2 linked regions of the Homo sapiens genome follow. The protein of the gene in region 2 interacts with the protein of the main gene of each other region in a pairwise test. Each region holds a gene or a part of one and is shown on either strand. Other genes may lie near its edges. The genes, in order: UBE2W and RFWD3.

Evidence for each region.
Region 1: the proteins of RFWD3 (region 2) and UBE2W interact in a two-hybrid assay, tested with the Homo sapiens proteins (one large-scale study listed by BioGRID and IntAct).

The regions. Positions count from the first base shown.
Region 1 is NC_000008.11:73,785,407-73,788,805, reverse strand, and holds the end of UBE2W (ubiquitin-conjugating enzyme E2 W), read left to right. Parts: 3' UTR 1-2,587; downstream 2,588-3,399. UniProt on the Homo sapiens protein: Accepts ubiquitin from the E1 complex and catalyzes its covalent attachment to other proteins.
Region 2 is NC_000016.10:74,639,155-74,642,981, forward strand, and holds part of RFWD3 (E3 ubiquitin-protein ligase RFWD3), read right to left. Parts: intron 1-3,827. UniProt on the Homo sapiens protein: E3 ubiquitin-protein ligase required for the repair of DNA interstrand cross-links (ICL) in response to DNA damage. Plays a key role in RPA-mediated DNA damage signaling and repair.

The sequences.
Region 1 (3,399 bases), on a different chromosome or scaffold from region 2:
GCACATACACTCTCTGGGTTTTGAGAAAAGGATGGTCCTACAACGATTCTAAGTTGTTTTCTCATTGGTCCTACAACAATTCTAAGTTGTTTTCTCAAAGGCAAAAGCATGATTTCAAAATGACATCACTTGTCAGATTTTCTGGTGTATGGAAAGATTTAATAATCCTGCCTCTTTTGAAGCCTGAAACTTACAATTTAAAGCCTGAAATCTACCATAAGGAACTTGGTAAATTGTGTCAGATACCATGAAAATGCATCTTTTCATAGTTAACCACAGATTGTTTATGTAAAGGCAAATTGGTGGTCAGGTTCAAGGTAAAATGGATTATTGGGTTGATTAGTAGCCAAAAACTAAATGCATGTTCAGGTCAAAATGAATTTGTTTGTTTTAGTTGGTGCCATTTTCCTTTTATTATTCAGAACTACAGAGTGTGCATTTTATTAATAGGAATGAAAGCTCATGCTTGAGGATTTGAATAGGGTGGATGTATATATTTTATAAACTCAAGTTGCAAAATATGTAAAGTCACTACTTTTTAAATAGAATATAAATGTTAAAACAGACAAATCTATGTTATATATTTTTTAATACATGTATCAGACTTGTTAGTTGAATGCAGATTACTTTGCTTTATGGAATTTCATAACTTTTAATAATAAAGCAGTTGTTATTGGATTTTTTCTGTAGACTTGAATACTAAATGGGATAGATACCAGACCTCTTTTTGGTTTATGACGTAAAAGTATTTGTACAGTAGTTTCTCTTCACAAAAGACTGAATTTTAAAGGATTATAGAAACAGGAACATGTCCATTTCCAAAATGAGTGCAACAGAATGAAGATAGTCACTTAAACCATCTATTTAACACATCACCTTTATGTAATATGTAGCTAGTTTTAGTGTTTTAATAAGTCCCAACTAAAGACTGAGTGTTTTCAGTGAAGATGGAAATGGAGACCCAGGCACTTGCTTAGAGTTATCGTGAGTCCGATGTTCCTGAACTTCAAGTTGTACAATTAAGGGCATACTCTAAGAACTTCTGGATGCTTTCTGGAGTATACAAACAGATCAACTAATGACTTAAATGAGTGACTCTTGAAGCTGCAAGAAGAGGAAAGAAATAACCACAAGAAGGGGCTATCTCAGCATCTGTTATTCCTGACAGGAGGAATTAAATATGCTCTGCTGGTAATTCTAAGCTTTTCTGCAGGGGATCTGCTTGCCCCAGGAGCACCTTAGTCCTCATTGAGGCAGCCATTCTGCCATAAAAACGATCATGTCTCAAGCTGTTCCTGCCGTCCTACACAACTATGTTAGTAGATGGTTAGATAAATATATGAACCATCTTTTGTACTTTGATGATGCCCTTTTCCTTTATTATAATCCTTAATTTCTACTTTCCATAGTAGGATTTGACTTTTCTCCATTAGTTTAAGCTACCCTGGATAAGTGACTCTGTTTATGTCCTCCCTATATTTCTTACTCATTTTCACACTAACATAACACGTAACAAAATTAAACATAAGCTAAATTGAAGAAGCAAGTGAGACAGCTAAGAGTTTTGTGTACTTGGACAACAAAGCTCAAAGCCACTGTGGTTATCTGTCCTGTTGGGAGCCCCTTTCAACCATTTTTTTAGTTGCCTGTAAGATTTATTTTTAATGTTTGCCTGCATAATGCAAAATACATAAGTGGGAATCCCTACGCCCTTTACAGTTAAGTGGATTATGGAAATAATAAGGAAAGTTTATCAACTAAGGTAGGAAATATCTTCTCATGTCTGTATCTGGCCTTCAGGGACTTAATGTGGGTGAATATATGTCATTAGACAAGATCCTAATATAGATGGCTGTATCCTGCAGATAGCCAATTCAACATTAAAATTTTATGTTTCCATACCTCAATGAAAACATATTTCTTTTATCCTGTTATAATTTAATGACATTCCCATCCAACTTAATCAAGCAATGATACTCAGTAGTCCTCTCCTTGCATTTTTCAAGTCCTGTTGAGTGTAACTTTAAAATGTCTCTGAGATTTCTACCTTCTCTCCAGTCTCCTTACCATTAGGGCCTTTCACTACCTGGCCTTGGTGTCCCTAGGCTGCTCTTCAGCTGTCCACAAACCTTGTTTCATAAGCAGTAGCAATGCAAGCTTCCACTGCCGTCTGCTAATGTTCTTCCCTCCTAGAATGTTCATGATCTGCGTTTCTACCTGAAAGGTCTAGTTCAAAGGTAGCTGAAAGGTTATCATCCTTGTCCTTTCTTCTCTCCCTACCAGTCATCTATCCTGAACTTTTTAACAGTAGGGACAGTGTTGCAATTGTGTTTGTGTCCCCAGCACGTAGCACACAGTACCTAGTATACAGTACCTGTAGCACATAGGCATTTAATAAGTGTGTATTGAATTAACTTGGTTATGCTTGTATTTTTATCCTAGCTTTCTCAAAGAAACTTAGGTGCTAGCTATTTTGAAACATATATCCAGAACCACCACCTGAGTAAAATGTATAACAGGACCCTGCTCTTTCTATCCCAGAGAGTTTGAGAAAACTACTTTTAAATAAATCATTAATCATTCTTCATTGGTTTTGGCTTTTTTTATAGGTGTTTCTCATATCTTTATCTCTGAGGCAAATTGCTTGTCACAAATTAATTGTTTTAAACTAAATACATCTCAGGAACCATAAAATCATAAAGGTAAACCTGACATAGAGTTTAAAAACCAGCATTAAGCAGATAATTATTGTGTGCCTTTCATATGCCAAGAAGGATGGCAGATGAGGTATATATCTTCAAAGGGCATATGTAATAAGGGAGATAATAAATAGAAAAGCATATCATATAAAATGTGACAAGCCTTAAGAGGTGCAGATAGTTTCTGATTATCAAAGAAACATGTCTGTGAAAAGTACTGTCATGCATAAAGATGGGCCAGGCACAGTGGCTTACGCCTGTAATCCCAGTACTTTGGGCAGGTGGATCACGTCAGGAGCTTGAGACCAGCCTGGCCAACATGGTGAAACCCCGTATCTACTAAAAATAAAATAACGGCGTGGTGGTGGGCGCCTGTAATCCCGGCTACTTGGGAGGCTGAGGCAGGAGAATAGCTTGAATCCGGGAGGCAGAGGTTGCAGTGAACTAAGATCATGCCATTGCACTCCAGCCTGGGACAGAGCGAGATTCCGTCTCTAAAAGAGAGTGGATGGGTGCCAGGGTTGGAAAAACTACATATTAGGTACTGTGTTCGCTATCTGGGCGATGGGTTCAATAGAGCCCAAACCCCCAGCATTAGGCAATGGATCTGTGTAACCAACCTGCACGTGTACCCCCTGAATTTATTTTCTTTAATACTGTCATGGGCTAGGCATGATGGCTTATACCTGTAATCCCAGCA
Region 2 (3,827 bases):
AGCCTCCCAAGTAGCTGAGATGACCGGCACCTGCCAACACACCCAGCTAATTTTTGTATTTTTAGTAGAGACAGGGTTTCACCATGTTGCCCAGGCTGGTCTCAAACTCCTGGCCTCAAGTGATCCACCTGCCTCAGCCTCCCAAAGTGCTGGGATTACAGGTGTGAGCTACTACACCCAGTGCGCTAAGCCATTTCAATGATTACAACATCACTTACGCAACAGAATTTTCAGCTCCATTATAATCTTATGGGGCCACCATCGTATATGCAATCTGTCATTGACCCAAAGGTCATTATGCAGCACGTGACTGTAAAGTAAAAGGCTAGGCAGGATCTTTATGAAGCAAAATACACTTGTGAAAGACACAAGAAAACAGTGAACAAATGGAAGGATATTACATAATGTTCATGACTGAAAAGACTATCACAAAGATGGTACTTCTCAAGTTACCCTATAATAATTTTTAATGCAATTTCAATCAAGATCCCAAAGGTGTTTTTCATGGAACTTAACAAATTAATTTTAAAAAATTAATATGAAGAACAATGCCAAAAATAGCAAAAAAATACTTTTGCAGAACAAAATGGGGGAACATATATTAAAGCTACAATAAATTATAGCTTGGAATATGTGAGAAAGAATTAACAAAAAGACTGTGGAACAAAAGAGTACAGTGTCTCCTTATCTAGTTTCATTTTCCATGGTTTCTGATATCTGTGATCAACCACAACCTACAAATATCGAGATATGTTGAGAGAGAGATGGAGACCACACTCACATAACTTACTATAGTATACTGGTATAATTGCTCTATTTTATTATTTATTATTGTTAATCTCTTACTGTTCCTAATTTATAAATTATCCTTTAGGTTTGTATGTATAAGAAAAAACATACTACGGTTTCAGGCATTCACTGGGGGCTCTTGAAATGTATTCCTTGTGGCTAAGGGGGGACTACTGTAGCCCATTCATACATGGAAACTTAATTTTTTTTTTTTTTTTTGAAACAGTCTTGCTCTGTTGCCCAGGTTGGAGTGCAGTGGCGTGATCTTGGCTCACTGCAACCTCCGCCTCCTCCCGAGTTCAAGCGATTCTTCTGACTCAGCATCCTGAGTAGCTGGGATTACAGGTGTGTGCCACCACGCCCAGCTAATTTTTGTATTCTTAGTAGAGACACGGTTTCATCATGTTGGTCAGGCTGGTCTCGAACTTCCGACCTTGTGATCCGCCCACCTCAGCCTCCCAAAGTGCTGGGATTACAGGCGTGAGCCAATGCGCCCGCCCGGAAACTTAATTAAGGATAGAAGTAGCAATGAAAATTTGTACAGAAAAATATACTATTTAGTAAATTATAAGTCAGGTGTGGTGGCATGCGCCTGTACTCCCAGCTACTCAGGATGCTGAGGTTGGAGGACTGCTTGAGCCTAGGAATCTGATGGCGCCACTGCACTCTGGCCTTTGTGATAGAGCAAGACCCTGTCTTTAAAAAAAATTTTTTGGCCAGGCGCAGTGGCTCATGCCTGTAATCCCAGCACTCTGGGAGGCCGAGGTGAGTGGATCACGAGGTCAGGAGTTCAAGACCATCCTGGCCAAGATGGTGAAACCCCGTCTCTACTAAAAATACAAAAAATTAGCCAGGCGTGGTGGCGGGTGCCTGTAGTCTCAGCTACTCGTAAGGCTGAGGCAGGAGAATCACTTAAACCCGGGAGGTGGAGGTTGTAGTGAGCTGAGATCACGCCACTGCACTCCAGCCTGGGCGACAGAGCGAGACTCTGTCTCAAAATAAATAAAATTCACAAAGGTATGAAAAAATGAGAAATCTCTCCTTTTTTTTTAAACAAGAAAAGTTTAAGTTAGAAAAGTAATTTGACAATATTTAGGTAAAGCTGAAATTAAATGTGCCCTATAATAAAGCAATTCCATTGCTAGACCTCTCTGCAGCATGGCTAATATTAACAAGTGGAGACAACCTAAATGTCTACCAATGTAAAACACAAACAGATAATTTTTTTTTTTTTTGAAGACAGAGTTTCGCCATTGTTGCCCAAGCAGGAGTGCAATGGTGCGACCTCGGCTCACCACAACCTCTGCCCCCTGGGTTCAAGCTATCCTCCTGCCTCAGTCTCCCGAGTAGCTGGGACTACAGGTGCGTGCCACCATGCCCGGCTAATTTTTGTATTTTTAGTAGAAATGGGGTTTCACCATGTTGGCCAGGCTGGTCTCCAACTCCTGACCTCAGATGATCCGCCCACCTCAGCCCCTCAAAGTGCTGGGATTATAGGTGTGAGCCACCACGCCTGGCCTAAACAGATTAATTTTGACTAGAGAACTAGAATATTATCAAGAAATTGAAATGAAAAAAACTAGAGTCCCATGTATCAACTAGGATATACTCCCAAAGCATAAAATTAAGCAAAAAAGCAAGCTACAGAAGAAAAAGTTATAATCTAACATAACATTTGCATACAGTATAAAAACTTTCTGGCCGGGTGCAGTGCCTCACGCCTGTAATCTCAGCACTTTGGGAGTCCAAGGCAGGCTGATCACGAGGTCAGGAGTTCCAGACCAGCCTGGCCAACACGGTGAAACCCTGTCTCTACTAAAAATACAAAAAAAATTAGCTGGGCATGGTGAAAGGCGCCTGTAATCCCGGCTACTTGGGAGACTGAGGCAGGAGAATTGCTTGAACCTGGGAGGCGGGAAGTTGTAGTGAGCCAAGATTGCACCATTGCAATCCAGCCTGGGCAACAAGAGCAAAACTCCGTCTCCAAAAAAAAAAAAAAAAAAAAAAAAAACCAAAGAAACCAAAAACCAAAACAAAACTTTCTATATCATACTATGTATAATTTACAAATACATATATAGCTAATCAAATACATAATAACTCTTGGGAATGCTGAACACCTAATTCATGAAAGTAGTTCTCTATGGAATTAAGAACTTAGTTCACAGGAAGACTTCTAGTGTACCTTTTTAAATTTGACACAGAGTCTTGCTCTGTTGCCCAGGCTGGAGTGCAGTGGCGCAATCTCAGCTTACAGTAACCTCCGCCTCCCAGGTTCAAGCGATTCTCGTGCCTCAGCCTCCCGAGTTGCTGGCATTACAGGCACGCACCACCACATCCGGATAATTTTTTGTATTTTTAGTAAAGATGGGGTTTTGCCATGCTGCTCAGGCTGGTCTCAAACTCCTGAGCTCAGGCGATCTGCCTGCCTCAGCCTCCCAGAGTGCTAGGATTTCAGGTGTGAGCCACTGTGCCTGGCCCTTCTACTGAATCTATAATTAACTTCTTCTTCTTTAAAATTTTCTTTCCTTTTTTTCCTTCTTGACCTGGTCAACAGATTTATCTTTATTTTTTTGAGACAGGTTCTTACTCTGTCACCCAGGCTAGAGTGCAGTGGCATGACCATAGCTCACTGCAGCCACAACCTCCTGGGCTCAAGAAATCCTCTCTCCTGAGTAGCTGAGACTACAGGTGTGTACCACTACACACGGATAATTTTTTTCATTTTTATTAGAAACAAGGTCTCACAATGTTGCCCATGCTGCTCTCAAACTCCTGGTCTCAAGCAATCCTCCTGCCTCGGCCTTCCAAAGTGCTGGGATTACAGGCATGAGCCACTACACCCAGCCTATTTATTTTCAAAAAGGCTCAAAGCAATATGGCAAAACATTAAGATTTGATAAAATTGGGTAAAAGGCTGTTCGTTTTATTAGTCTGTATCGGCATTTTGAAACTCTTCACTTTTTCTAATGAGGCTGGAGAGTATACTAATTCCTTATTGTAATCAGTGAATTGTTTTTAAATATAATCACCCATTA